7 separate regions of the Homo sapiens genome follow, and regions 1, 2, 3, 5, 6 and 7 are each linked to region 4. Evidence: fine-mapped expression QTL. A gene starts in region 4. Each other region holds a variant in brackets. All regions are shown on one strand. Distances are between the middles of the regions.

Region 1 (4,000 bases), 51 kb after region 4:
TCACCATTAAAAGGGTAGGAGAACAACTTTAAAATGGTGAATTTGATTTTGAAAATCCAACATTTCTGTAGGCCATCTGGGGAGAATGATAGCCTCATTATTGAAACTCTAATGACTTTGTTAAAGGAGCGACCCCTAGGAAAGTCCATTTCCTCTTGTATCTCTTGCCTGGGACTAGTTTTACTGGGCACTGGTTCTTTTTGGAGTAACTTTTCCTGGGGCTGGGAGCTAATGAGAAACGCATGTTTAGTAGGGATTTTGTAAGTACATTTTACCTAGGTGGTGTCATGGAAAGGATCATACCCGTGAGATACTGGATTGCAAGATTTATAACTAGTAGAAAAAATTGAGGCAAACTGAAGTAAATGAAAATCACTCTCCTGACAAGTTTTCTTAAACATTTAAATTGTATTCAGAGCCTCATTTACTGATATTATCATATTTCCAATCTTTCCTCCTTGTCCTAGCATGCTCATGAGAACACGCTGCTCCAGCTGGACTTAGAGGAACCCGGTGCATCACAGGCATTCCTGACAGAGTCTCGTGGTCCTGCTGGTCCACTCAGTGGTACTCAGTCCTCCTCATTCTCGGGGATAGGTTCCAAGACCCCCAGGGGATGCCTGAAACTGCGGATGGTACCGAACCCTACATATATTATGTTTTTTTCCTATACATACATACCTATGATAAAGCTTAATTTACAAATTAGATAGAGTAAGAGATTAACAACAATTACAGCAATATACTGAAATAAAAGTTATGTGAATGTGGTCTCTCTCTCTCTCTCTGAATATCATATTGTAAGTAATACTTTCAAACCATGGGTAACTAAAGCAGCTGAAAGTGATACCTTGGATCAGGCAGGGCCACTGTCCTGGCTCCCTCTTCCCCACTAGCGCCTTTCTTCCACGTATATAGTCAAGACAAGATTTAAGTGGTGTTTTTCCATAACGCCTCCCACAAATGCTCCAGCCTGAAACTGATTTCTCTTTTCTGATCTTTATAGTCCTGTAGTTAGTCATTCTTAAAGTTCTGTGCATATGCTGCATTCTATTATTCAGCCATGCAGGGCTATGTCCTGTCATTAAGAACAGAGGAACAAGCCAGATCTCTGTAGTCCCATAACTAATATCATGCCTGGAATATAGTGAGTGCTCTTCAAACATTTCATAGGTCCTTTTAGAGGTCCTGGGGCATAGTCAACTTTGGAAGCATTCAACCATAATGAATTTTAAATAAAAATATATGAAAAAAAATTTTTTTAAGCCCCCAATCTCTGAGCCCAGGAATTCAAGACCAGCCTAGACGGCATAGTGAGACCCTGTCTCCACAAAAAATAAAAAATAGGGCCGGGCACGGTGGTATATGCCTGTAATCCCAGCACTTTGGGAGACCAAGGCAGGTGGATCATTTGAGGTCAGGAGTTCAAGATCAGCCTGGCCAACATGGTGAAACCCCATTTCTACCAAAAATACAAAAATTAGCCAGATGTGGTGGCACACGTCTGTAGTCCCAGCTACTTG[G/A]GAGGCTCAGGGAGGAGAATCTCTTGAGCCTGGGAAGTGGAGGTTGCAGTGAGCTGAGATTATGCCACTGTACTCCAGCCTGGGCAACAGAGTGAGACCTTGTCTCAAAATAAAATAAAATAATAAAATAATTCCCCAAATATTTTTCTAGCCTTTTAAAAGATACGTATTATGTACTGAAAAAACAACAACAACAACTAGTTTTTCTGTCAGAATTGTTGTCAAATACAGGAAACAATTCAAATATCAAAACATTAATCAAGATAATCTGTGAGTATGTTCACACACATGCACAAATACAAACACGCAAAGCCACACAAACATCCTATTACCAAGCGGCTGTGATTCACTGCAGGGCACAGTGTGTCTCCTGTATATGCAGCAAAATTGCGGACCTCTCGCAAAAGCCTGTGAAGGAGGAGATATCTCTAACCTCACAAATGCTAGCATTTTGATGAGTTTTCACTGAATTTAGCAAACTTTTAGTCTCCTTTATCCCCATCTGCCAAGTGAAGATATTCTTATACTTAATATTCTTCTCTAAGGTTTTGAATAGAAAGAAATATTGCTACACATTTTTCTGAAGTCCTTTTCTCTTATAGGTGAAATGCCATCACATCCTTCATACTCATATTTTTAGGACCATAGGAGACCCAATATATCTGTCTGTATTGCAATAAATTACAAGGCTTTGACCAAAGACCCAGTTCCTAACTGACTGCTCTTGAAGCCAGCTCCACTGCAGAATTAAGGAACAGAGATGAGACTTGTCTGACATGGGGAACTGTCACAGGATAATACCTTTGAAAAGCCTGGTTTTAGAACTTGCCTCTCTCAATTTGAGGCAGTGTATGTTTTTAAGTTTCTAAAAATAAGATATTATAAGATTTGTAACATTACAATGACTGCCAATGCAAAGAACCTCTGGGACTCTAGTGCATCAGTGGAATATCAGCACATTGATGGACATGTGGACTATTTGGATTCAGAAGACCTGGTTTGAGCTCATCTCTGCTGCCAACTGTCTGTGTGACCTTAAGTAAAATTATCTCCTCTCTCTGAACCTCTGATTCCTCTTTTGTAAAATGAGGAAGATGATGATACTTGTTTTACAACAAGTGATTGTGAGGCACACGGGATGCTAGCCACAAAAGCGTTTCATAGTTGACGTGTTAGTTACTCATTAGTAGTTCAAGTAGTGTTGCTCTGCTGCAGTGGTCCTCAAACTTCAGTGTGCATCAGGATCACCTGGAGGGCGGGTTAAACTGCACATTGCTGAGCCACACCTCCAGAGATTCCAATTCAGCAGGTCTGGAGGGTGCCTGAGACTTTGTCTTTCTAGCAAGTTCTCAGGTGATGCTGAAGCTGCTGGTCTAAGATTGCACTTTGAGAACCACTGCTCTACTGAAATTCCCAGCCATTTTCCTTCTTACCTCATGATGAATTCCTTAAAGCATAACCTCAACTTGTTGTGATGTCGATAGAGTTTTGGATCAGCAGGAATTTCAGCCAAAAACACTTGGGCTACTTCCAGTGGTCCCTGGTGGGAAAAAAAAAAAAAAAAAAAAAAAAATATATATATATATATATATATACACACACACACATATATATATACACATACATATATATGTATATGCATATGTATATGTATATGCATATATATGTATATATATATACACACACATATATATGAATATATTCATACATATATGAAGGAAATTAAATTGCTTGGGAGAAAATATTGGAGTGACTTCTTAGTTTGAACATTTAATTTTGTAGTTGGTTTGAAATAAACAAAAAAAAATAAGGAAGGTCTTGGACATCTCAGGAAATTTTGATTTCTTAGGAGGAATCTGAAGTTTTAGAGGAACACTCAGAAGTATAAATGTATTTTCCCTGTGTGTGTGTGTTTTGTTTTTGTTTTTTAGACAGGGTCTCGCTCTATCACCCAGGCTAGAGAGCAGTGGCATGATCTCTGCTCACTGCAGCCTCCACTTCCCAGGCTCAAGTGATCCTCCCATGTCAGCCTCCCAAGTAGCTGAGACTACAGGTGTGTGCCACTATACCTGGCTATTTTTGTATTTTTTTGTAGTGATGGGATTTTGCCACATTGCCCAGGCTGGTCTTGAACTCCTGGCCTCAAGGGATCCACCCACCTCAGCCTCCCAAATTGCTGGGATTACAGGCGTGCGCACCATACACAGCCCAAATTTATTTTCTTTTTTATTGTTGTTTTTGAGACAGAGTCTTACTCTGTCACTCAGGCTGGAGCGCAGTGGCATAATCTCAGCTCACTACAACCTCCACCTCCCGGGTTCAAGGGATTCTCCTGCCTCAGCCTCCCAAGTACTGGGACTACAAGCGCCTGCCACCACACTGGCTAATTTTTGTATTTTTAGCAGAGATGGGGTTTCACCATGTTGGCCAGGCTGGTCTGAAACTCCTGACCTCAAGTGATTCACCCACCTCGGCCT
Region 2 (4,255 bases), 250 kb before region 4:
CATCAAATGAACAGGAGGGGGAAGCAAAGGGAAGAGTGACTGCCTACGTTTCTGTAGACTCTGGCTGACAGCCTGTCTACCCGGATGGGTGGATTGCTAATAGCAGTTAATGTTCATCATGTTGGCACCTGGGTGAAACTCCTTTCCATGCAGAGGTAAATGTAGGTACCGATCATTGAAAGGTAATCTTTAATTAATTGATTGTTTTTGAGACAGAGTCTCACTCTTATCGCCCAGCCTGGAAGTGCAGTGGTGTGATCTCAGCTCACCGCAACCTCTGCCTCCTGGGTTCAAGGGATTCTTCTGCCTCAGCCTCCCAAGTAGCTGAGTAGCTGGGATTACAGGTGCAAGCCACCACGACCGCCTAATTTTTGTATTTTTGGTAGAGACAGGGTTTCACCACGCTGGCCAGGCTGGTCTCCAACTCCTGACCTCAGGTGATCCACCCGCCTCGGCCTCCCAAAGTGCTGGGGTTATAGGTGTGAGCCACCGTACCCGGCCGAGAGGTAATCTTCAGAAGACTTACTGGTGGGTGATGACAGTGTTTGGGCCCCCAATTTTAAAAAGGATTAGAAGCAGTGACAAGAATTTGGCAAAACAAATTTCTGAACCCAAGACTGTTGTGCACTGGCAAGTGTAGGATGTTTGTCCTCAGCTGGAGTCCCTAAACTCCGACACACACAGGTAAGTAAAATGACTGTGCTCTACTTTTTTAAATATGTGCCAGGCACAGTGACTCATGCCTGTAATCTTAGCACTTTGGGACGCTCAGGTGGGCAGATCACCTGACATCAGGAGTTTGAGACCAGCCTGGCCAACATAATGAAACCCCGGCTCTCCTAAAAATATAAAAATTAGCCAGGCGTGGTGGTGTGTGCCTGTAATCCGAGCTGCTTGGGAGGCTGAGGCACGAGAATCGCTTGAACCCAGGAGGTGGAGGTTGCAGTGAGCCAAGATCTCATCACTGCACTCCAGCTTGGGCAACAGAGTGAGACTCCGCCTCAAAAAAAAAAAAATGTTCTACAGACCAATATCTATAGCAAGGTTTATAAGACAGACACCAAGCTTCTGGCTCTTTGGTTATGTAGTGGTCATATATCTCTGATGATGACTGAATGAAGCATATGGGGAACTTCATTAACGTTCCTTTGGTCATTCAAGGCCTTCCATTAATCAATCTCAGCAAGTGTACTTTCTGAGTGTCTTGTCTCTTGGAGGTGAATTTACAGATGAGAGAAGATATAAACAAGTTGCCTCCTTTCCCAGTGAAACACTGATGTCTTCTCCCTCTTCTAACTCATCTCAACTTGGTCTCTGAACTTAGCGCTGTGGACATACCATATGTGTCCTTAGGCAAGAGGATCTTCAATTGGTTCCTGGGTTCATTGGACCCCTGTGGCTTTCCAACACAGATGACTCAGTCTCTTGCATCTCAGTGTGAACACCTAGGATGACCGTTTTTCTGCTCTGGAAAGGAAAAACACTGTGCACTTCTGCCTGATGGCAGAATCAGAACCCAGGATGGAATGCAGAGGCAGCAGCTGAGAGGGCAGCAGTGCAGCACACTCTCCTCCATGCCACCTGGGTTTCCAGAGGAGACCATGATTTTTTTTATTATTTTTTGAGACAAAGTTTTGCTCTTGTTGTCCAGGCTGGAGTGCAACGGCACTATCTCGGCTCATTGTAACCTCCGCCTCCCGGGTTCAAGCGATTCTCCTGCCTCAGCCTCCTGAGTAGCTGGGATTACAGGTGCCCACCACCATGCCCAGCTAATTTTTGTATTTTTATTAGAGACAGGATTTCACTATGTCGGCCAGGCTAGTCTCGAACTCCTGACCTCAGGCGATCCACCCACCTCAGCCTCCCAAAGTACTGGGATTACAGGCATGAGCCACCGCACCCGGCCAACCATGATTTTTTAAAATGTGCATTCATAAGGGAGTGAGCTGACACAGAAACTCATGGGATTAGCATAAAGAAACATTACTTTCTAAGGGAAATGTATGAGTCATTTTTTTTTTTTAAGACTGCTGTGAGTCAAGTTCTATGGCCAAATTCTGGATGAATACAGGATTTATAAACACTTGATATATTGTACAAGCTGTAGAAAGACTTCCT[A/G]TTGGGCAATGGTATCTTTGCAGAATTTGTTTTTTATACTGGGAAGCAAAAGTTCCACAGGGAACAAGTTAACTCATAAGGTTTAGTCACTGGAAACTGCAAAAGACGAAAGCCTACAAAGATGAAAGAACAGACACTTTAGAGCTCCCTGATGGACAGGAATCCTCCTTATCAGAGCCCTTCCTCTAGAGCAGCATTTCTCAAAGTGGGGTTTCTGGACCAGAAGCATCAGCACCACCTGGGAACTTGTTAGAAATGCCAATTCTTGAGCCTCTTTCCAGACCTACCGAATTGGAAAGTCGAGGTTGAGGCCCAGCAGTGTGTTTTCACAAACCCTCCTGGGGATTCCGATGCACACCAAAGTTTGAGAGCTACACGTTTCTAAGAGACAATCTAGGCAGACTGTACACAGGAAATGGCTTTCCTTTCACAAAAATATGTAGTCCCTAGTGCCCTAAGGCATCCACTGTAGATAATAGGTTACATTCTCTCTCTGCAACTAGGATGGTACTGGTATGTACCATCCCTGGGGATTATTAAGAAAATAGTCATCCAAATAGTTGTCATTGTTCTATGATTAAGTCCCCAGTGACAGTTTTGTTGCTGTCCGCCAATCAACTAAGCCATTTGGTTACACAGCAGCACTTCACTTCGAGGAACCAGTTTTTGTATGGATAAAGAAAATCTAAGTTACGCTGTGACAGCAAGTCACTCCCTAGCTTCTCTGGCTTAGCATAATAAAGGACTATTTCTTGTTCCTAATACACCTGCAACACAGCTTGGCAAGGAAACTCTATTCCACGTAGTCACTCAGGGTCGACACTAATGGGATGTCTGTGTCAACACTTGCTTCCGTGATCATCACTGTGACAAGGGGAGTACAAGATACGGTAAACTGCACTGGCTTTTGAGGCTTCCATCTGGAACTGACACATAACCTTTTCTGTTTCATTGGAGAAGTCACATGGCCAAGTGTAACTTCAAAAGTGTGTGGGTAGTACATCCGATCCTGTTGTGCCCAGAAAAAGAACTGGAGTATCTGAGAACAGCCCTCGTGACTGCTATTCAAGGTTACGAGTGGGCCACAATGGCCATCATGCAAAACTATGTGGTCACATTCAAGAAATAGCAGGGCTAAGAGTTTCCAGTTTTTACCTTCTTTCACTATCTCTTTGATTATATTGACTCTCAAATCTGCACCTTCCTTCCCAAGGTTTTTTTTGATCAAACTTTTTCATTTTCTTAAACTTTAAAAAAAATTGAAGTTAATATACATACAGGAAAGCACACACGTGTGTCTACAGCCTGATGAATGGTCACAAAGTGAGCATAACAGTGCAACTACCCCCCAGGCAAGAAATTGACCATTACCAGGAGCCCACCAGCCCCATTTGGGCTCCTTCCAGCTCCCTCATGGCAACACTCCTGACTTCTAACACCATCAGTTATTTTTTTACACTCATTCATTCAACTAGTATTTCTCAGCTAGGCACCGGAACTTCTCAGTCCTGGCAGATGGTGTTACAAACCGAAGCATGAGATTTCATCCTAATAAGCTTCCTGTTGGAAGACTGGATTTTTCTGGGGGTGGGGGTGACATATTTTAGGCAGGATTGGGGGTGGGTGAGCTCTCTGAACTCTCAGGGATTTTACCTAATAAATATTTTCCTTATTACCTGTTTAAGCACATCCAGTACTTCCTAAAAGAGCAGATGGGACCATAGCAAGAATCTCTTTGCTGCCCGACACATGAGAAGCGGCCTGCCCAGCTGGCACTTGCTCTCCTACAACCAGCCTCAACAAGGCATCGAGCTGCCTGCACCAGTGACAGCAAAGCAGCACCTGCCTGTCTGCAGCTCAGGGATTTTCTCTCGCCCTCAGTCGTACAGCCTTAGCCTTCCAGGTGGTTTCTAGGGCTGGGTAACTAGTTCCTTCTGGGTTGGGGAATGGGGAACAAGTGTAAAAGTTATTTTGGCTCAAATACAAGATTGACATTTGGTTTTAGAAATAGGAATATTTGTTATGCAGCTTCCATTTTATGAAAATGAGGGATATGTTTTCCATCCTCTTACCTATTTAATCAACAAAGGTCTTAATGGAGATGCAGTGGGCAGCTGGATTCTTAAAATGCCAGCTC
Region 3 (4,519 bases), 150 kb before region 4:
AAACATTCAGAGGGCAAATCTATGCTATGTGTTTTTCACCACAATAAAAAAAAAGGAAAAAAGTAGAAGTAGCATTTACGGTGCTCCAGTCACACTAAAGGTCAAGCTGCCTTATGTTGCTATCCTTTAGTGGAAATAAACCTCACTTAAGCTTTTCCCTTTTTAATACAGGAGACTCAGAACATTCTCTGCTTTTTTATTGTCACAGGCTCTCCTGCTAGGACAAGCACATCCCTTTAGTGATTCTTCAAGAGTTCTGCTGACGTTCACCTACCCACGCTAGACAGGCAAATATTCAGGCACCGGGAGGGAGTAGGGGCATCTGCCATGGAGATGTCCTTTAAAAATGGGAAATGACTGAAAAAGCCTGATCCCATTCTGTTGAGGAATGCCTTGGAGAATAGCAGTATGGTCACAGACTGACCAATGACAGGCCACACCCAGGAGACAGAGCCTTGTCCCCTGGTCAGCATGAGGTAGAGGCAAAAGGGAAGACCACTGGCTCAGCCCCACCCATTTCCCAAGGACACTTTCATAGCCTCTAATTCAAATATCAACCACTTCTGCCATGTTCAGCTGAGAAAATTCAACAAGCCAGGGGAAACAGATTCCACAGACGGGACTTAAACTCTTTCCTCCTCACGCGAAGGTCTTGTCTCTCCCTCTCTCCTTCTGAACAGGCTCTGACAGCAAGGTCTCAACTCCACCACGCTGGGAAAGGCGCCAGACTGTGGGACCTGCCAGATAAAAGGCTTCACCCCTAACCCAGGCCTGAAAGGTTGGGCTCAAGCCAGAGACACAGGATGAAGCCATGTCCCAAGAAGACTGGCTCCCAGAGCCTGCGGTCTGACAGCAAGAAAGTGCCAAAAGTGACTAGCTCCTGCAACGAGGCTCTGGGGCATTACTAAACTTTCAGCCTCTTAGGGCAGTAACCCCTAAAGGGCAGGGTCTGAGGCAAGGAGGAAGCCAGAAGGCAAGATCCTCAAACTCCGTGAATCCTGGGACTCAGTTACAAAGGGGAAAGGCCTGTTACTACATGTGTCATACTAAAGCAAAATTAATTTACAAACATTTGATTGAAACTCTGAGTAAGCAGGTAGGGAGAAGCAAAAACAAAACGTTTTAGCCATCAAGGGAAGGGAAATAGTCATTAATGGCAAAATATTTATTGTTTCTAAGGTATCTGAAATCTCAATGACATTGCTTTTATTTGTTCTATACTACGTAAAAATATATAAAAACTGTGTGTTGATAAGCACTTACATAGGTCAACACTTTCTAACCACCTCACTACTCAAAGTGTAGACCCCTGGGCAATCTTAGCAGCATCTGCCTGACTTGATTTAAAAAAGCAGCATTTTGGGCCCTACCCTAGACCTACAGAATCAATCTGCATTCCAGCAAGACCCCCAGGTGATTTGTATGCACACTGAAGTGGAAGGAGCACTGGTTTAACCTTTATTTTTCCTCATCAAGTCTTAAGCTTCCTAACCCATTACCTTTTATCTGGAGCAACCTACAGTAATGGTTCACAATCTTGGATTTTTTTTTTTTTTTTTTTTTAGACAGAATTTTGCTCTTGTTTCCCAGGCTGGAGTGCAATGGAGTGATCTCCACTCACCGCAACCTCTGCCTCCCGGGTTCAAGCGATTCTCCTGCCTCAGCCTCCCGAGTAGCTGGGATTACAAGCGTGTGCCATCATGCCCGACTAATTTCTTGTATTTTTAGTAGAGACGAGGTTTCACCACGTTAGCCAGGCTGGTCCCGAGCTCCTGACCGCAGGTGATCCACTCGCCTTGGCCTCCTAGAGTGCTGGGGTTACAGGCGTGAGCTACCACGCCCGGCTGGATGATTATTAGAATTACTGTCTAGGTCTCATCAAAGACCAATTGAACTAATCTCTGGGGGTGAGACCTGAGCAGAAGTATATTTCAAAGCTCCTCCAGGAGATTCCAACTGCTACATTTGAGAGTTATTGGTCTATTCCAGTGGTTCTCAAAACGTGTTCCGAGATCAGCAGCATCACCATCACTAGGGAACTTGAACTTGGCAGAAAACCACATTTCTTTTTCCTTCCTCCCTTTATCTCTCTCTCTCTCTCTCTCTCTCTCTCTCTCTCACACACACACACACAAATGCATATTGTGACTATGCTTATTAAAAAGGAACTCAGTAAAACTTGAGGAAATTCTCAGAAAGCAGGTATTCTGGTATCTCTTTCAAACAATATATTGGTACCTGAAACAAAAATA[T/C]TTATGTCTTAGAAGGGTGACTTAAAATTCATTTAAAAATGTGGATGCTGCTAGGTGCTCATGGGCTCATAGGGTCAAAGCAGACAATGGATGAGAAACGATTGAGTGGTAAATATATTACATTGTCCCTTCTGGTTGAGTTAGTGTTTGAAAAAAAAAATTCTATTGTCCTGTGAGTGGTTTGCAAACAAGTGACACTCTATGGGGCTTACCTGATAGCAAGAGAATAGTAGTTCCTCCAGATCTGGTAATATACTATTCCAAGATTCTCCCAGAGATTTTGATTCAGTGAGTCTGACATGGTGTTAAAATTTACATTTCTAACAAACATTCTCAACTGATTCTTGTCTTCAGCAAAATTTGGAAAACACCCTGCCTTCTAAGACTGTTATTCTCTGGGCCACTGTTTCTCAAAGTCTGGCCGTGGACCAGTGATGTCAGCATCACCTGAGGACTTATTAGAAATGCTTGGGCCCCACAACGGGCTACTGAATCAGAGACTCTTCAGGTAAGTCCAGTCATCAGTGTGTTAACTGCTGCATGTGGTCATTTTCAAAACTTACATCTTTTAAGTAAAAACGATCTGCTCTTATTCAAATACCTAATTTCTGGTAAGAAGCCACTCAATTTCAGCCTCAGTTTGTGTCTTTCATGTGGAAGCATGAAAGGGCATAATGAACAGTCTTTGGCTGTAACCAGGAAGTATCCATGTGGAAAGGAACAGGGTGGCACACTCTGCAAAAAATGAAAGCAGTTGTGCTAGTGTGATGGGAGCTTTAAAAAGTATTACATAATTTTACTTTTATTGGAATGACAATCTAACAGCAACTGTAAACACAAAGACAACACTAAGTATCCAATGTGATGAGGCTTGTTCATCTTCCTAGTTGCTATCCTCTCCTTCTTTTTTATTTGAAGAAAACATATCTGCAACAAAGGTATGAAAACCAAACCAGATCACAGTTCTGTTACCTCCAAATGCAAAAGAACTGCTTGAAAACAGGGGAGCACAAGACAAAGGACATTCAGAACCCAGGGACAGGCTTTACAGGGCTCTTGAAACCTCCGAAATCAAATGCAAAGTTTTGTGGTTTTCAGCAAACTTGCATCGTTCAAGGGAAAGGTTTTGCAGCCTTTATTAAATATCCAAAAGAGGCCAGACCCAAGGAAAGTCAATAACCTCTGAATTTCCATGTATCTCACTGAATGCAGATCTGAACAAAAGTCCTATTAATTTAATCTTCTCTTATATGACAAAAAAAATTCTCTTACCTGGAAACCTTTTGCTCTGGCCTTAAAAACTGCTTGTGAGAACTGGAGACTCATCCACCAGAGCAGAGCTTGGAGACAAGCAAAGTAGTAGCACTAGAGAGACCACGAGCCTGGGAACCGCATTTTCATTTCCAGTTGGCCTCGAACTACCTCTGGGACTCTGGGAACGTTACTTAAATGCTCTGGGCCTCAGACTCTTCATGTCCAGACTAGGACAGCCCTAATGACACTTCCAGGCCTGACAGACATTCTATGATTATGCTCTTCTAAATCCTGGGCCCAAAGGGAACACAAGGCTTCCTTGAGCTGACGTTGCTAAATAAAGTTAAGGCCATATGGGATGCTGTGTATGAGTCAGCAGGACACAGGTCTTGCCTCACAGGACCCAGCTGTGCGCAGAAAGCTTCTCTGGCACAGTGAGGACTATTCAGAGAATTCCCACCGCCAACGCCGGAACAGATGCTGAAACACCTGGGCTCTGTGTTCTCCTCTAACTCAGCTCCCAGGGTGGCTACTTTTTCCCCATCCCTTCCAAATTAAGTTTTCTATTCCCTCTCCATGTACTAGTACTAAATATTCAACAATAAAGAAATGCATGACAGAGAAAGTAAAAAATCAGCCGTAATTCTACTACTATCAACGCTTTGGTGTATTGCTTCCCAGTTCTTTCTTGTGGTTTTATAAGCATGTATGTACCTATACATTCTTCCCAAATGTTCCTTTGTAACTTTTAACTTCATATTATAGTCATCTTCCTAAGATAACAACCACATCTCTCTTTTATGGCTGCATAGTATTCCCCTTTCATCTTTGTCTCATTTGACCTTCCTTTATTGTTGAATATTTAGATTGTTTCTTCACACTGCAAACACTTTATTTTACTTTTGAGACACAGTTTCGCTCTTGTCGCCCAGGCTGGAGTGCAATGGCACGATCTCGGCTCACTGCAAACTCTGCCTACCAGATTCAAGTGATTCTCTTGCCTCAGCCTCCTG
Region 4 (4,519 bases):
TTTATGGACTAGGCAAGTCTAGAGCCCAGAAAGCATCCCTGTGCCCTAAGGGGATAAAATGTATTCCCAACTTGTGGGTCTCTACAGGAGGCAATTATTCCTCTACTGGCAGCTTCTCTTCCATCCTTATTCATTTTAACCTCCCCATAGGACAGCCAATACTTAATTTTTCTTCCATTGCTTCAGCAGCACCTTTCCCCAAACCTAGTAACAGAAAAAGGATCAAAGTTAATCACCTCTCAGTTTTCTCACTCAGTCTCTATCTTAGAAAAACTTCCTAAGTAGCTGCCTTAAAATGAGGGAGAAGGGCTGGGAGATGGAAGAATGACTGCTAATCGGTATAGGGGTTCTTTTTGGGGGCAACGAAATGGAATCAGATGGTAGTGATGATTTCATAACTTTACGGATATATTAAAAACCACTGAATTTTGACCTTAGAAGAGTAAATTTATATGTTTATTACACTTCAATTTTTTTTAAATAAAACGTGCTCAACATTTTAGTAGAGAAAGTTGGATGAAAGGAGAAACTGGCAGATGAACAGCTACTTAGCTGTTAACGCCACCTAAAAATGAACTTGAATAAACTCAGGAATTCAATATAAGCAAACAGACCCTCATTTCCATTCAGCTCCAGAGGTGGGGGGCAATGACGGTGAGGAAAGGAACTGCACGATTACACATCTGGATGATTAAGCTTCCTTATTAGCCTCGGGTATCAGGGTCTAATAGAATCCACTATTTAATAAGATGGGCTGACCCTCCGCAGAGGCCACGTGCGGAAAGCGAGCGCTGGCGGACGCCATAAATTGTTAACGCCAACTCGCCCAAGGCCTTCACTAGGTCACGCTCGTGCAGCACGGCTCGTGCTGACCCGCAAGAGCCACCAAGAACAGTTGCCTCTGAAAGTTCCACGGGACCCGGGTGAAGGAGATGAACGGTCAAGGAGCCGTGGCTGCCGCGAGCGCCACTGCGTGTTGCCCAAAGCGGCACAGAAAACGCAACATTCGGGGACCAGCCCGCTTCAGGGCCCCTACACCTTCCCTCGACCTGGAACCGCGGGACCTCGGAAACCCACGCTGCCCGCGCCGGGTTGGGCCGCCCCAGAGGCCGCAGCGCCCACGCCCCTCCCCCGCCTCCCCGCCCTCCAGCCCCGGCCGAAGCCACCTCGGAGTTGGCGGAGGGCGACCCGAGGCCACCTGCCCCTCTGGGGCCGAGGATAAAGGGGTCTTGACCGCCACTCCCTCCCGCGAAGGGCAACATCCAACTCCACGGAGAGCCGCTTCAGAGAGGGTCCCCCGTTCCGCCCCGGGCTAGGGAAGGGCCCAGAGGCATCCGAGGGACAGAGCGCCGGGCCGGGGTAGCCAGGCGCCCGCACCCTCCCGCCGGCCGGCCCGGCCCGAACTTTCTCGCTGCTCCGTGCCCGGCGCGCCTCTCCCTCCTCCAGACCGGCCGAGCGCCGCCGCTGCAGAGCGCGCCAAACTCCGACGGCCGCGGGGCCGACGCCACCTCTCGGACCCCCCCCCAGGACCGCCCCGAGGCCGCCGGGTTCACCCGCACGAGCGGGAGCCCGCGGGGGCTGCCCTCCGCCACCGCCACGGCCGCCGCGCAACCCCGGCGCGCGCCAAGTCGGCTCCGCGCGGGGCCAGCCCGAGGCAGGGGTAGGGGCCTCGCGCTCCGGGACAACCTCGCCGCGGCACGGGGCGCGGCACGGCCCCGCCGCGTCACTCACCTTCGGCCGCTCCTCCCAACCTGCCGGCCGCTCGCTCGCTCCGCCGCGGACCCGGAGCTCGGGGAAGGGCGGGGCGCAGGGGGCGGAGTCGGCCCCGGCTGGCAAGCGCCAGAATTAAAGCCCGAACCGCACGGCCGCCGCCGGGGCGGGGAAGCCGGGGCGGACCAGCAAGCCTCTCACCCGCGGTGGGCGACAGCTGTGGCTGCGCCCCGGAGCGGCGCGTGAGAAGAACGGCGCGGGCCGGCGAAGCCCCGGCTGCTCCCTCCGCCCAGAGGACGCCCGGCTCCCCGCGGGGGCGCTCTTTGTACCGCGGAGCCGGCCGCGGGCGGCCCTCAGTGCGCCTGCGCGCCGCTGCAACTCCACCAGGCCCGCGGGGCACCTTCGTGCACCTTCGTCGCCGCGCCTGGCCCGCGGGCCTCGCCGCGGCGAGAACTAAGCAGAAGAACTTCCTCCACCGCGGTTCGCTCCTTCTGCCAACCCGTATTTACCACGTCCATCCTCGCACACACACCCGCAAGGGGAGAAGAAATCCAGCCCCCGTGAGACGGTGCGGTGCTCCCATCTCCGGCTGGGGCGGGGGTTCTGGCAACGAGGCTGGCCTGCTCGACGTCCTCCCCCAGCGCCTCTGTACCTCCTCTCCCTCCCCGGGTGAGGGGGACCGGAGCGTGCAGAGCTCTGTTTCCTGCAGGTGCCTCGTCAGCACGGTCGCCCCGGCGGCCAGAAACCTCCCGCCTCCAAGGGCACCTCCCTTGTGACCTCCGTGCATTCGCCCTGGCTCGGCTGCAGGACAGAGTCCTCGGCGGAAAGGGGAGGATGCGTGTTCAGAAGGTTGCAGGTCTCTGGGGACTCCACAGAAGACCCAACGCCTGCCTCGGGGGCTCAGGATTGAACTGGCTTCCTAGTTCAGTCCCAAATACTCGATTTGGAGCAATCCAGTAGGTCCATGAGAAATTAGTAGGGATTGAGAAGCTGTGACTTCAGTCTTTTTCAAATTGAAGGTGGCTTGAACAAACAGAAGAGGAGCTTGGGAACTGAAGGGACGACTTTATAAAAACCAGGTATTACTCAAAAAACAATGTTAGCTCTGCAGTCAACTGATTTTCTTAAGGGAGAGAGTCCTCCCCTCACCCCCAAGCTCTCTAGCACCGCACACATCCAGCAGGGCGTTACACACGCTCAGTCTTTTTTGTGAGTGTGCAAGTGAAGAGCCATCAAACTTCACAAGGCGACATGCTTGCCTCTGGGGAGAAGACGCTGCTTTTCCACAGTTCACAGCGAAGCACACCTGCAAATTCCTGAACTTGATGGCTCCTGACTGTTTAGGGAATAGGCAAAGGGCAGCCGGAAGATATGTGAAGGCAGGAAAGCTCATTTTGAATCTCAGCGCCTTTGCCAGCTCACTGGGTGGCAGTAAGCAAACTCTTTCCTCCTCCTGGGCCTTGCTTTTTCGTCTGTAGAGTAGGGCATTTGGATGCAGTAGATATTTTCTAAAATCCCCCACCACCACCACCCCGCCCCAAATGTCTACTCTTCTATGAAAAGGAGAATTGTTTGCATGGTGATAAGGGATGAGATATCAGAGGCAGGAAGACTCCTGCATTTTAAAAGTGCTCGTCGGCCAGGCGCAGTGGCTCAGGCCTATAATCCTCACACTTTGGGAGGCCGAGACAGGTAGATCAGTTGACCCCAGGAGTTCTGGGCAATACAGTGAAATTCTGTTTTCACCAAAAAAAAAAAAAAAAAAAAAAAAAAATCAGCTGGGCGCGATGGCGCGCGCCTGTAGTCCCAGCTACTCTGGAGGCTAAGGTAGGAGGATCGCCTGAGCCCTGGAGGTCGAGGCGGCAGTGAGCAGAGATTGAGCCACTGCATTCTAGTCCAGGCTACAGAGTGTGACCCTGTCTCAAAAATAAATAAATAAATAGTGCCCTCGACCGGGTGCACTGGCTCACACCTATAATCCCAGCACTTTGTGAGGCCGAGATGGGTGGATCACTTGAGGCCAGGAGTTCAACACCGGCCTGGCCAACATGGTGAAACCCCATGTCTACTAAAAAATACAAAAAAATTCGCTGGGCGTGGTGACGTGCACCTGTAATCCCAGCTACTCGGGAGGCTGAGGCAGGAGAATCCTTGAACCCGGGAAGCTGAGGTTGCAGTGAGCCGAGATCATGCCACTGCACTTTGGCCTGGGCGACAGAGCACGACTCTAAGAAAAAAAAAAAAAAAGTGCTCTCCATCCCCAGAATTCCCAGCCTTCACCTCTCCTTTATTTCTCCCTCTTTGCATTTAGTCAGTAAACATTGATAGGCCCTCAAGAGTAAGCAAAACGAATCAATCAAAAGTATGGCAGATTCTGAATTTTTAGTGGATTTATACTTGAAATTTCATTTTTAATTTAGTTATTTTATTGACATACAATTCACATGCCATACAATTTACTCCCAAAATGTATAATTCAGTGGTTTTGAATATATTCCCAAAGTCACACAACCATCACCACTAATTCCAGACATTGACATCCCAGTAAGAAACCCCATACCCATTAGTCACTCCCCATTCCTCCCTACTCCCAGCCGCTGGCTACCACTAATTTACTTTCTGTCTCTATGGATTTGCTGATTCTGGACGTTGCATATAACTAGGAACATAACAACATGCTACTAGCTTCTTTCACTTAACATAATAGTTGCAAGGCTCATCCATGCTGTAGTATGTTTCAGTACTTTCTTCCTCCCCCTACCCATTATACCATTTACTGATGATAGAATTATACTGGAAAACTGTCACA
Region 5 (4,519 bases), 63 kb before region 4:
GAGAAGTCCAAAGTCTAGGGCTGCATCTGGTGAGGGCCTTCTTGCTGGTGGGGACTTGACAGAGTCTGGAGGCAGCACAGGGAATCACATGGTGAGGCGGCCGAGTGTGCTAGCTCAGGTCCCTTCCTCTTCTTAAAAGCCACCAGCCCTACTCCCCTGATAACCCATTAATCCATTAATCCATGAATGGATTAATCCATTCATGAGGGCAGAGCCACCTCTTAAAGGCCCCACCTCTCAATATTGCCACATTGGGGGTTAAGTTTCAACATGAGATTCACATGGGACATTCAAACCTTAGCAAGCACTATAACATACTGAGGGACCATAAATAGGAGACGAACATATAGAGATAGGAAGCTATGTTTTTTGAGACAAAGTTGATAAAACAGAGGGGAGGCAGGAAGAAAGGAAGGCAGGTGGGCAGGACTGGGTCAGGCAGCTGGATACAGTAGTGTGTCAGGCAGATACTGAGAAGATACCTCTGCACTAACAGCCTCCCAATGCCCCACAGTGGAGCTGGTCCCCAGCTGAACCTCTACAGGTGGGTAGAAGAGCACCAGAGCCATTCCTCCCTCCCCAGGAGCTCTGTCTACAGTGAGCTACATACTCAAATATACCCCGATGAGTGTGGAAATCGATCCCATTTTTAAAAGATATAAATTTGGCAAAACATATTAAGGGTTTTTTAAGTGGTCATGATCTTTTAAAATGTGACTTCTGACCTGTAATTTTGCTTCTAATCATACACATACTAAGGAAATAATGTTTTTAAAAAATCAACCTTGGCCAGGCATGGTGGCTCACACCTGTAATCCCAGTGCTTTGGGAGGTTAAGGTGGGAGGCCAGGAGTTCGAGATCAGCCTGGGCAACATATTGAGATTTTGTCTCTACAAAAAAATTTTAGAAAATTAGGCAGGCATGGTGATGCACACCTGTAGTCCTAGCTATTCAGCAGGCTGAGGCGGGATGATAGCTTGAGCCCAGGAGTTTGAGGTTAAAGCATGCCATGACTGCACCACTGCACTCCAACCTGGGCAACAGAGTGACGATCATGCCACTGCACTCCAGCCTGGGTCACAGAGCAAGTCTCTGCCTCTATGGGAGAGACAGGAAAAAAACCCCACAGACTTACACATAAATACATCCACTGCCTCACTACTGTAAAAATTTCAGAAACTTAATAATTTGTTAAATTATGATACATATCTTAAACATGTTTATGAAGATTAAGGAAATGCTTACTTTATAAAGTTAGGTTGAAAACTGGGTATGATGTTGAAGATTTTAAACAAAAATATAAAAATGAATGGAAGGGACTATATCAACATTTGAATATTTTTGCCTTTGGTGTAAAAAATCTTGAGAAGTTGATTTTTAACATGCATTATAGATAAGGTAGTGGTTATAACCACATCAAGATAAATGTAAACTATTCTCACACAGGATCACTCTCTACCTCATACTTCACTCATCTGTGAATTTAGTCAAATTAACTCTTGAGCTTTGTTTTCTTCTCTGTAAAATGAAGATAATCATAGCTACCTGATATGGGCACAAAGAAAAAAAAAAACCAACAATGCCAAGCGTTGAACTTTGGCACTCTCTCTTTGGAAGACTGTAAGTTTTGTCCATGCTGGTGACTTTGGAGCCAGTTTTAAAAATTAACTCTAAATTCAATACCACTGGGCCTCTTAAAGTTATAAAACATCTGCAAACTTCTATACTGCAAGAACGTACTCAAATGAGAGACTCTAATTCTGATAAGCTCGGGCATCTCCCTGGGTAACCAATAAATTTTAAAATGGGCCAACACTGCACCAAAGTTCCATGAGGAAGGGACTTATCAAGAAGTGCTGCCTTTCAGAGGAAAACATTCTCATGGATGACTTGGTTTCACATTTCCAAACATGTTTCATTTATATGGCACATTCAAACTAAGAAATGCTGCAAAAGTTCTCTTTGCTGGCTCCAATCAATGCAGAAGGTACTTAGAAGAGGGAAGTGAAACTGCTTTTGCAAAACTGTGACAGTAAGAGATATCTGACCCTTGCTTCTAACCTCCAAGTTGTCCTTCGTCATTCCTGGGCATGGGCAAAGCTAACTTCGGGGAAAATTTAGTTTATAGTTTAACTTTAAAGCAAGAATGAGAATAGCACTTTCCAAAACTAAATCAACTTTGT[A/G]AAGCTAATGAAACACCACAAGGTTAGGGTTATGAGAAGGGCCTGAATTCTGCTAAGATGTAGGCATAGAAGGCAATCCTAAGCAAAAAGAACAAAGCTGGAGGCATTACACTACCCAACTTCAAACTACACTACTGGGCTACAATAACCAAAACAGCATGGCACTGGTACAAAACCAGACACACAGACCAAGGGAACAGACGAGAGAACCCAGAAATAAGGCCGCATACCTACAACTATCTGATCTTTGACAAACCTGACAAAAACAAGCAATGGGGAAAGGACTCCCTGTTGAATAAATGGTGCTGTGATAACTGGCTAGCCATGTGCAGAAAATTGAAACTGGACCCCTTCCTTACATCATATACAAAAATCAACTCAAGAAGGATTAAAAACTTAAATGTAATACTCAAAAACCTGGATGATAACCTAAGCAATACCATTCCGGACATAGGAATGGGCAAAGATTTCGTGACGAGAATGTCAAAAGGAATTCCAACAAAAGCAAAAATTGACAAATGGGATCTAATTAAACTAAAAGGCTTCTGCACAGCAAAAGAAACTATCAACAAAGTAAACAGACAACCTACAGAATGGGAGAAAATTTTGGCAAACTATCCATCTGACAAAAGTCTAATATCCAGCACCTACACGGAACTTAAATTTATAAGAAAAAAACAACTCCATTAAAAAGTAGGCAAAGGCATGAACAGACACCTTTCAAAAGAAGACACACATGCGGCCAACAAGTATGTGGAAAAAAAGCTCAACATTACCGATCATTAGAGAAACGCAAATAACAACCACAAGGAGATACCATCTCGCACCTGTCAGAATGGCTATTATCAAGAAATCAAAACATAACAGGTGCTGGCGAGGTTGCAGAGAAAAAGGAACATTTACACAGTATTGGTGGAAGTATAAATTAGTTCAACCACTGTGGAAGACAATGTGATGAGTCTTCAAAGTTCTAAAAATATAACTCCCATTCCACCCAGAAATCCCATTACTGGGTGTACACCAAAAGAAATATAAATCATTCTATCATAAAGATGCATGCACACATATGCTCACTGCAGCACTATTCACAATAGCAAAGACATGGAATCAACCTAAACGCCCATCAGTGGTACAGTGGATAAAGAAAATGTGGAACATATACACCATGAAATACTATGCAGCCATAAAAAAGAATAAGATCATGTCCTTTGCATGGATAGCTGGAAGCCATCACCCACAGCAAACTAACGCAGGAACAGAAAACCAAATACTACACGTTGTCACTTATAAATGGGAGCTAAATGATGAGAACACATGGGCACATAGAGGACAACAACAGACACTGCAGCCTAATGGAGGGTGGAGGTTGGGGAGGAAGCAGAGGGTGAAGAAAAATAACTATGTATTATTAACTTAACACCTGGGTGATGAAACAATCTGTACAACAAACCCCCATGACACGAGTTTACCCATATTAACAAACCTGCACATGCACCCCTGAACCTAAAATAAAAGTTTTGTTAAAAGCGTAGGTATAAATGATAACCAGCCATTGTTCTGGAAGTCACAAGATTTGTAACTTCCCCAATTACTGTGGTAAATAGCATCACTCTTGCGGAACCTAAGATTGGCCTTTTGAGATGTCTTTTCAGACTGCTGCATTTTTGACGACTGGCTGACTCCACCTGGACCTGCGACTCATGACTCAACTGGTCCTATGGCCCCTAACCCAGAGGCAGACTCAGCAAATGAGGGCTGTTTTCCACACTCCTATGATGGCATCCCCAGCCAATCAGCAACATCCATTCTATAGTCCCCTGTCCACCGAACTATCCTTGAAAAACCTCAACCCCCAAAACTTCAGGGAGATTAATTTGAGTGATAACTCCATCTCCCATGCGGCTAGCCACCTCTTCGTCAATTAAACTCTTTCTTTACTGCAATACCATGGTCTCAGTGAACTGGAAGACCCTTTTGGGTGACTACACAAGTTATGCTCTGCAGAAGACATCCTTAAACTACTGTCTGCACAAGGTAGAATGGGAGCAAACATGAAACCATTCTTTAGGGTTGACTTTCCCATTGCAAGAACTATGGCTTAAGTCTTAAAGATGAAGCTGCTACCATTTTTCTCTTTAGCAGTAACTAGTCAGGGAGTTGAATGGGTGGGAAAGATCTTAACAGGAATAGATGTTCTCCAGCTCTCTGATTAATTTAAATTGCTGAAAGTTTACCTGACATGCCTAGTGGTCTTCAAAATATATAGGTATGGATTTGCAAAGGAAGAAAAGGGGATTTTTCTGTTTCTAAAGTCACACTTTGGTCTCTCTTCTCT
Region 6 (4,519 bases), 190 kb before region 4:
TATAACAAACTCCTTTGCACCATATGAATTTTACCTACCCAATTAGATGGTAAGTGGTAATAGTAAGATAAGTTCTGGTGGTATTCCACAATGAGAACTTTGACACTGTCTGCATCTGGGCTAGCCAGCCTGTAGCCTTGACTCTGTCTGCCCCTAATACTTCGGAGGAAACTGAGAAGGTCTGACAAATTCCAGCTACTCTGGGCTGAGCTGGAGACCAGGATCCGGTCTCTGGGCTTGTCTTCTAGGGCTCTGTTACCTCATTCTGCTATTAAAAAAGAAAATTTTTTCTTTAAACCAATGGATGACTCACCGCAGAGAAAAGTGATGGGATTCCTTTTCTGAAGGTCACTGAAGTATGAGAAATCTAACCTGGGAAGGACGGATATGGCATGAGTGAGGGCAGGAAGAAACAGGAGACAACATTTTAGGGAATCCAGGTTCTGATTTAGCATGTTGAGATGCAGAACACAGACTCGCTCTGTGTTTGAAACTCTAGGATGGGAAGAGCAAGGACTGAAAATGCCTGTGAGGCTAAGACAACACCGACCCTGACAGCCAACAAGTGTCTCTGGAGGCAGGAGAGAAAGGCGGGCAGCACGCTGTTTCCAGCTTTGTGTACCTATCCACCCGCATCTGACCAGGGCCTGAATTGGCCAACAGGGAAAGCTAAAGGTAGACGATAGGCCTGGGGAACTTAAACAATATACTCTGAAAACGCAAAACTTCCACCCACCAGATGGTCTCTGACAAGCTGAATTTCAGGTTGGCTTGCCTCTAGGGTCCCGAGTGTTACTGTTGGCCTGCCTACCACAGATCTTGTTGCAGGTAACCCATACTGTCTGAGATAAATACATATCTAGAACTCAGATAACACCCTCCGCCTACCAGTTATTAGTCTCAATCGTCAGCACACATCAGATTGGCTATTTAATGCCAGTGTCAAGGGTATATTTGATTCAAACTCTTTTGAACCCCCACTAGCCAAATCTAGGATAATTTGAGCATGAAAATAATATGATTAATGATAGTAACAAGTTACAATCCAGAGAATAGGTATCTACTTGTGAGTCCATCATGCTATAATAAATATGTAGGAATACCAACTAATATATACAAGGAATTATGTCAACAGAAAATCACCATGGACCAATTATTAGAACAGTGGCGGATTCAGGTAGGAATCACTAGCTAAGGCTAGTGGGTAGAGATTTCCTACTAAAGACTAAGATACTGATGTCGTCTCAGAATATCTCACCAGAAAATATTCCTGGAAACGTCTACAACTTCTCAATTACTATCCTTGCAAAGTCATGTGCCAGGAGCTCCATTTTAAAGAATAAAGCCTAAAAGCTCTTTTCTGTGGCATGAAATGTCAATCATAAAAAAAAATGGTGACTCTATGATGAGAAAGCTGACAAATAACCACCTCGACCAGGTGATCAAAGTTGACATCATGTATCTGCATGGGGAAGAGCAGAGCATCACTTTTGCACTGTCCTGCCAAGAAGGCATGGCCTGGACCCTGCCTGAAACACATTCTACAGAATGTCAGGCCTCTCTTTTTAAAACCATCATGGCCATGAAAAAAAGGTAAAAACGAGAACTTTTCAGATGGAAGGAGGCCAAAAAGACATGACAACTGCATTTCTACACACAGACACACACACACACACACACACACACACAGATGGAACAAATACGGTAAAATGTTAACCACTGGGAAATCTGAGTCTGGGTGAGGAAGACATGAGAGCTCTTTTTATGTACGATTAAAATTATTTAAAAATAAATTTTATTTCTGTCTTTCCTTTCTTCATCTGTGCATCAATGTCCTTAGGGTGCACGAGTGCAGTCAGCCTGCCACTAGGGAGCACAGCCCAGACTCTGCTGTTACTCATACTGCAAATATGCAGCCTGTTTTCAGGGGCAGATGGCTTTGCTTTCCTGTATTACATATTATTTGAGAAATTTTACATTTGTTTCAGGTATTCCTGGAAACGTCTACAACTTCTCAATCACTATCCTTGCAAAGTGATGTGCCAGGAGCTCCACTTTAAAGAAGAAAGCCTAAAAGCTCTTTTCTGTGGCACGAAATGTCAACAATTTAGCCCCAATCCAGCACCTCCCAGGTTCCTCCCCACCCCAAACCTCAACGTACTGAGAAATTTTCAAGCTTATCTATCTTTGCTCATTCTATCCCCTCTACCCAGCACACCCTTCCCCACACTCTCCCATCTGTCAAAATCAGCTGCATTGTCCTAAAGGGCCCAACCCAGATACCTCATTTTTGTAAAGCCCTACTTACCCTCAACTGCTCTGTCCTGGGAATAACTGGTCCCCTTCTTCCCTCTTGTTTCCTAAGTCACTTTGCCTATATACGCGGAACTGTGTTACAGTTAGCAAGCACATGCCTGTGTTTCTCTACCAGACTCTAAGTGTCTAGGGGAGGCAGAAGTCAAGCAGTTTTTTTTTTTTTTTTGAGACGGAGTCTCGCTCTGTCACCCAGGCTGGAGTGCAGTGGCGTGATCTCGGCTCCCTGCAAACTCCGCCTCCCGGGTTCACGCCATTCTCCTGCCTCAGCCTCCCGAGTAGCTGGGACTACAGGCGCC[C/T]GCCACCACGCCCGGCTAATTTTTTGTATTTTTAGTAGAGACGGCGTTTCACCATGTTAGCCAGGATGGTCTCGATCTCCTGGCCTCGTGAGCCGGGCTTCCCAAAGTGCTGGGATTACAGGCATGAGCCACCGCGCCTGGCCCTCAAGCAGTATTTATGTTTGTATTCCTCAGTACTTGGCGCTTGGTACATGGCCCTCTTAGTATCTGCTGAAGTGTAAAGCCCCACATCTAGGCATCTACTGATGAATAAGTATAACAGAGGAAGAGATGTAGTGATTTGAAGCAGGCACTCTGGGGCCAGACTGCCTGGGTTTGAATCCTGGCTCTGCTGCTTTGCAGCTGTCGGCAAATTAGACTATATTCCAATTGTTTGAGAAAATAATAGTACCTGCATCAGTGTGTTGTCACTTAGAACAATGGGTGGGTTCTATTGTCACTACTAGTGGTACTGGATCACCCTCTGTTGTCTGGAGAAGAACACAACCCTGGCCCCCCAGAGAGGATCCAGAACCCTTCCTCCTCTATACCTTGCCCCCCCCCCCACGAAGTCAGGGTTTAAGGTATTTGTGATACTTGTTCAAGACCAAGTAAGTCTGCTAAAATCTTGAGTTCTACATTGGTTTCTTCTTCTTAAGAGTGTATGAAGGAGATGCCAGCAGGGAGCTGTAGGGGATGTGTGTGTGCACACGCACTGCTTGGGCAGAGTGGTATGTACCAGTTAGATAAGGGGGAGTCCCAGTCCAGCACAGGAAGGAAATAAAAGCAAAAGCAGACAAACACCCCCCAACTTTTAAAGCATATTATGGCCAGGTTAAAATATCTCCATCTCACAACATGAGGGCAAAGGTGAGTGCCGATTATTCTGAACACTCATTCTGCAGCTCTCCCGAAGTCCTCAGGGCACAGTGCTCTCTAACACACTGTGCAAAGACGGTGCTTTAAGCCACCCAGAGCACCTCCAGGGTAGTCGTCCTGAATGGCCTGCCTAGGTTGGGGGAAGGTATACTATTGTTTTCATAAAACAAGAACAGGAACTATGATCACTTCCTAGTTCATGCACGAGCCATGGGCAAGAGAGCCCTGGAATCATACAATGCAGTGATGTGATTCATACCCTTAAAATGAGGGGGGTCAGTGGAACTCTGATTTCCAAAGTTGCTTCCAGGCTATGAGTAACTGTCGACTAGACTTGATACAAAATTTCTTAACATGGCATGAAGAAAAATGAATCACGGCAGGTGTCAGACCAGATGAGCTCAGGCAGACAGAGCCTGCAGTCTTCCCCTCTGCACGTCCCACTCAGCAGCACCTTTCCAGCTGCATCCTAACTGGCATGACCTAACAATCCCCAGTGCAGTGTCCCTCCTGGGTATTGCCAATTCTACTCTGGGCATGGGTTAAGAGGCCAGAAGCCAGGCTGCACGTAAGAGTGAGGGGAAGACAGCGGAAAGGGTTACTATTCTCAGTAGTGGAACGGCCTGTCTTAATAAAGGGCACATTGTGCTAGGGAGGCATGTGATGGTAACAGGGGCCTTGCGGTTTATACAGTGGCCCTCTTCTCCAGTGTTCAGTGCCAACTACAAGATGCAGCAACTCTTTACCCCAAATCTGTCTCAAAACAGCCAAAATGCCATGGGCTCCTAAGTGCAACCCCAACTATGCTGCTCTCTAATGTCCACTGTCTCATTTTAAAAGTTGTTGCTGAAATACAGCCCAAATCAATCATGCATGCACAGAAGAGAATGAGCTTGGACTGTTATTTTCCAAACTTTCTTCAAAAGTAACATGCTGTTCTAAGCGTAAAAAAGAAATGTGCCAGTTCAGAGAGTAATTCTGTGAAAAGCAGAAAAGGAGCACTGGCTAACTTAGGGATAAAACAGGCTTTTCTAACAAAACATTACAGT
Region 7 (4,519 bases), 210 kb before region 4:
CCAGGTCACACTGATTCATGAGAATTGGAGAGCCAGAAACGGAAGCCAGGCAGTGTGGTCCTAAGCTGAGGATGATGTTATACACTGTGAGAGGCAGTGCACATGGTCACAAGCAAAATCAGGTTGGTAAGGCTCACAGGGAATTACTGTAAGCCATAAAATCATCCAGGGTGGCTTTCTGATTATTAGCTTCAATTTCAAGAAGGAAGAGTGAGCAGGAATCCCAATGAATACGAGAAAGAATAAGACAGACAAAAATGTAAGCGCCTATCGGGCCAGGTGTGGTGGCTCATGTCTGTAATCCCAGCACTTTGGGAGGCCGAGGTGGGTAGATCACCTGAGGTCAGGAGTTCAAGATCAGCCTGACCAATGTGGTGAAACCCTATCTCTACTAAAATACAAAAGTGGCTGGGCATAGTGGTGGGCACCTGTAGTCCCAGCTACTCAGGAGGTTGAGACACAAGAATCGCTTGTACCTGAGAGGCAGAGGTTGCAGTGAGCCGAGATGGCACCACCACCCTCCAGCCTGGGTGACAGAGCGACTCTGTCTCAAAAAAAAAAAAAAAAAATGAGTGGGAAAAGACTCCCTTCTCTCCAAGTTTGACCACCTCATCTCAAACAGCCCTCACCCTGACCACTACCACTCGCTGTTCCCATAACCGGAGTTAATTTCTTCACAGTATTTATCGCCTCCTGACATGTTATAGGTCTACTGTCTATATCCTGCACCCCACCTAGAATGTAAGCACCGCAGGGACAGGGGCTCTGTTCTGTTTTGTTCACACTATCTTCACAGCCTATAGCTTGAGACAGAGTAGGAATCCAAGTAATAATGATTTTTACTTCATATTTTTTTAGAAATGGAGGTCTTACTATGTTGCCCAGGCTGGTCTCAAATTTCTGGGCTCTAGCAATCCTCCCGCCTCAGCCTCTAGAGTAGCTGGGACTACGGATGTGTACCATTGCACCTGGCTCAAATTCAATAATTATTTGCTGAATTAAAGAATGAATTAATGGAGTCTCTCCTCTCATAAACGTTTTAACTGAAAACATTTTATGCCAGTATTTCAATTGCTAATATACTGGTAATAGTGGGTACAAACAGGGTAGGATTTTTTAAAGGCAGTTCTATAAATAATGAGCAAGTAAATAACTGAAAGACAAAGAATAAAGCATCTTACCAAACTAGCAGCCCCAGAAGACAACCTCTAGGCCAGCCAACACCAGTTTACTTTTCTTCCAGCGTTAGTCCTCAGCCAGAGGCCAGTGAGGCTACCAGATAATAAGCATCAGCAGAGGTGCTTATGGATTTTGATTCTTAGTTTTCATTCTACAGATTACCACTCTAAAACTTTCTCCATTTCTCCTCCAAAAATGGTTCCAGCAGTTAAAAAATAATCCTTAGCTTCTGGAAAGACATTTTCCCCCATCCTTCCTCATTCCCAGGTCCTCAGGGTACCACCTACCTGTGATTTTACCCAGACTGGTTTTCTGGAAGTCAGGGTTCCTCAGCTCTTCAGTGCTTGCAGATTTCATGACAGAGTTGATAGACGACAGGGTGCTGATGAGCTGAGAGTTGAGGGAGCCCATCTGTGAGTGAGGTTCCCCGAAAGCTTCTGCCAGTTCACTGTAGTTCTCAGCCAGCAGTGTCTGCTGTTCTGCCAGCAGCTTCTGGATACGCTCAATGTAGTGATCCAGGCCAGTCATCATTCCAAGTGGAGCTTGAGGCTGGGGGTTCTCCAGAGATTCCCCTACAGGGTCATCCCCAACCCCCACGCTCCTTCTGCTGGCTGTCAGCCCCACAGTCAACTGTGGTGGCCCACAAGCTATAGTCCTCATTTTGAGACCAACCAGATAGTTGTCGTTAATATTTATCTGCCCCACACCTGACTCTTTGGTCTTCACAGCTGATGGCCTGTCAAACCCAGAATGGCCAGAAAGCAACGTTCCAACACCAATGGACCGCGTCTTGGTGGAGGAGTTGATGTCCTTGACACGGCCTTCTCCTACAGCTACTGTCCGCGTCTCCACAGTCTGGGTGCTGGTCTGCTTGTCCAAAGTGCTTAGACAAGTGTTGGTGCAGGACTCTATGAGGGTGGCCGTCTCGGTGTTGGTGAACTGGTGCACCTGTTCCAAATCTGTGCTAGTGTCCTGGTCTGCAGTACGAGGCACTGCCATGACGGCAGCTTCCACCTGGCTAACAGCCTCAGTGTTCACGCCCCGGGAGGCGCACTCCTTTGGAGAGCAGACGGTCACGTCAACAGAACAATCTCCACAACCGATAGACCGCACTTCTTTGAGATTCAAGTTTGTCTTGAGGAGTGTGAGGTC[G/A]TTCACAGACTCCTCTGTGTTGCTGCCTGTTTCGCAGACGCTGACTTCCACACTCACACTCTTGTCACACATTTCCACAGACCTCCCAGCACATCGGTCATGCATTTCCACCCTCTCCTTAACAATCCACCAATTCATAGGCAGCTCAGGCCCTACGACTTTATTCTTACATTCAGGCTGGCAGGAGATGCCTACACTGTTTGTTTCCACGGAGGTCCCAACACACGTGTCCACCAGGTCCATGTGACTGCCGACCATTTGGTCTCTGGTCTGCACCACTGCCTCCACCACCTTACTGAAAACAAGCGGCTGGGCCATCGTGGCTTTGTCAACCTTTTTCCTCGATCCAGCAGCCTGCAGCTCTTGTTTCAGTTTAGTCATCTCCCGGTCATGGGTGGTTTCTCTAAGCTGTACTTCTAGGCGATAGATCTTTTCCTTCAAGGATTCTATGGTCTGCTGTTGCAGCTCAATTTCTTTGTCAGCTTCAGTCATCACTCCAAGCATGGCCTCTGTCACGCTGACCCCACAATTTCTCATCTCAACAAGTGTCCCTACAGCTGCATCCTTACAGGACCTGGAGCCTCTGTGGTACACGACGATGTCGTTCATGTTCTCCTCGGCACCCACAGCCACAGACCGGCACTCTCCATTCTCCCTGAGCTCTGAGGAGGCCTCACAGCTGCTGTCCTGGATCTTCTGCTCCAGGGCTTGCATGTCTGCTGTAAGTTGCCGGAACTCCTTTATCCTCTGCGTGCTCTGTTCTACGGTCTCCATTTCTTCCTCCTCATAGTCAATGTATAATTCCCCGCCACTTCTTCGGGCCCGGGAGAGCTGTTCCAGCTGGGAGGCGTTCCCCGCACTATAGGACCGCTTCCTCACACCACAGACATTGATCTGGGATGCAGCCCTTTGGTTTTTCAGCTGTGAGACCAACTGCCTTTTCTCTTCTTGCAAGACAGAGATCTTTACCTGGAGCACAGGGATGGTTCGCACCTGCTCCTCCAGCTCCTTCAGGCGTTTCAGAGCAATGGCCATCTGCTCGCGGATGTGCTGCAGGTGCATGGGGCTCACGTTGGTCACTGGGGTGGAGATCCCTGAGCTCAGGGGGCTGTGGCGGATGGAGCTCCCCATGGAGGAAGTGGTGGGAGCAGCTGGGGCATAGCTACCATAATCCCCATTACCTTGGTATCCATTCTGAAGCTGGTGCTTGGCAGGATTGTGGTTTCCAGAACCCACAAAAGAAGGGAGGGAGCTTGTGGTGCCCATGCCTCCAAAACTGGCCAGCCTGGGCCTTCTGAACTCACCCGGTGTCATCTGCATGGTGGCTCTCTCCTGTTCCAGTCTTCTCCGGGTCTCCATCAGTGTCTTGGTGACATGAAGGTTATGCTTTGGGAGTTGTGGTGAGGGAGGTGGCAGCTGTCGATTTTCTGGGATGGTAAGAAAAGGGAGTGAGGTCTCCAGAGGGGGAGGTGGCTTTGAGATTGGAGTTGATGTAACTTGACTTCTGGCTATGAGGAAGTTGGGGCACTGCTTGTTGTCATCACTGTTGGAGGATGAGAGGGATTCAGTGGAAGTCCATATACCTTGCTGACCAGATGTGGTCCTGGGTTCTGGGCATGGCACGGACGGCTTCCGCCTCTTCTGGATGTTCAGTCTTTTGATGGTATTTCCCTTCTGTATGTCATCCACATATTTGAGGAAATCTAAGTCTAGTTGATAACCATAGGGGGTCTCCACAAAGTAAGGGTCTTTCTGTTCCTTGTCCTGGTCTCCACTGAGAATATCACCTGCTTTTCCTAGAAGAGGGAGAAAAGAATATTATAATGACATGCAATACACCTAATGGTAAAAACTAATATTTGTGTTTGTTGCAGTACAGCAAGCTGGTATGATTTTAAGAGTTGACACACCTATGTTTTGAACCTGGATCTACAACAGCTGGGTAAGCAAGTTTTTTTTGTTTTTTTTTGTTTTTTTTTTTTTTGAGACAGGTCATTCTGTCACCCAGGCTGGAGCTGCAATGGCATGATCTCGGTTCACTGCAGCCTCCGTCTCCTGGGATCAAGCAATTCTCCTACCTCAGCCTCCTGAGTTGCTGGGATTACAGGGGTGCACCACCACGCCTGGCTAATTTTTACACTTTTAGTAGAGACAGGGTTTCACCATGTTGGCCAGGCTGGTCTCGAAC

What was found.
Region 1: its variant is fine-mapped to the expression of KANK1 in whole blood (TOPMed, PIP above 0.99).
Region 2: its variant is fine-mapped to the expression of KANK1 in fibroblasts (GTEx, PIP 0.98).
Region 3: its variant is fine-mapped to the expression of KANK1 in whole blood (INTERVAL, PIP above 0.99).
Region 5: its variant is fine-mapped to the expression of KANK1 in whole blood (TOPMed, PIP 0.99).
Region 6: its variant is fine-mapped to the expression of KANK1 in whole blood (TOPMed, PIP above 0.99).
Region 7: its variant is fine-mapped to the expression of KANK1 in whole blood (INTERVAL, PIP 0.99).

Annotation. Positions count from the first base shown.
Region 1 is chr9:451,074-455,073 of GRCh38, reverse strand. DOCK8 (dedicator of cytokinesis 8) reads right to left here. Exons shown (of 48, transcript NM_203447.4): 46 at 2,957-3,063. It overlaps LOC124902108 (a long non-coding RNA gene), which reads left to right. Exons shown (of 3, transcript XR_007061389.1): 3 at 468-770. Among named protein-coding and RNA genes, the nearest start is that of DOCK8-AS2, 17 kb to the left of the region's middle. The variant G/A (reference allele first, on the strand shown) is at 1,524.
Region 2 is chr9:750,134-754,388 of GRCh38, reverse strand. It overlaps LOC124902109 (a long non-coding RNA gene), which reads left to right. Exons shown (of 4, transcript XR_007061394.1): 2 at 3,804-4,038. Among named protein-coding and RNA genes, the nearest start is that of KANK1-AS1, 67 kb to the right of the region's middle. The variant A/G (reference allele first, on the strand shown) is at 2,119.
Region 3 is chr9:652,415-656,933 of GRCh38, reverse strand. The region is part of intron 1 of KANK1 (KN motif and ankyrin repeat domains 1); the gene reads right to left. Among named protein-coding and RNA genes, the nearest start is that of KANK1-AS1, 31 kb to the left of the region's middle. The variant T/C (reference allele first, on the strand shown) is at 2,253.
Region 4 is chr9:501,967-506,485 of GRCh38, reverse strand. It overlaps KANK1 (KN motif and ankyrin repeat domains 1), which reads right to left and starts at 1,791. Exons shown (of 12, transcript NM_015158.5): 1 at 1,732-1,791. LOC105375947 (translation initiation factor IF-2-like) reads left to right here and starts at 933. Exons shown (of 4, transcript XM_047424276.1): 1 at 933-1,226; 2 at 1,317-1,547; 3 at 1,665-2,789. The coding sequence starts at 933. The coding sequence ends at 2,486. RefSeq lists a silencer at 1,666-2,155.
Region 5 is chr9:565,050-569,568 of GRCh38, reverse strand. All of the region lies in intron 1 of KANK1 (KN motif and ankyrin repeat domains 1), which reads right to left. Among named protein-coding and RNA genes, the nearest start is that of KANK1, 63 kb to the right of the region's middle. The variant A/G (reference allele first, on the strand shown) is at 2,185.
Region 6 is chr9:694,247-698,765 of GRCh38, reverse strand. All of the region lies in intron 2 of KANK1 (KN motif and ankyrin repeat domains 1), which reads right to left. Among named protein-coding and RNA genes, the nearest start is that of KANK1-AS1, 11 kb to the right of the region's middle. The variant C/T (reference allele first, on the strand shown) is at 2,613.
Region 7 is chr9:710,412-714,930 of GRCh38, reverse strand. It overlaps KANK1 (KN motif and ankyrin repeat domains 1), which reads right to left. Exons shown (of 12, transcript NM_015158.5): 3 at 1,467-4,127. LOC107987042 (phosphatidylinositol 4,5-bisphosphate 5-phosphatase A-like) reads left to right here and starts at 4,289. Exons shown (of 1, transcript XM_017015393.3): 1 at 4,289-4,519. The variant G/A (reference allele first, on the strand shown) is at 2,332.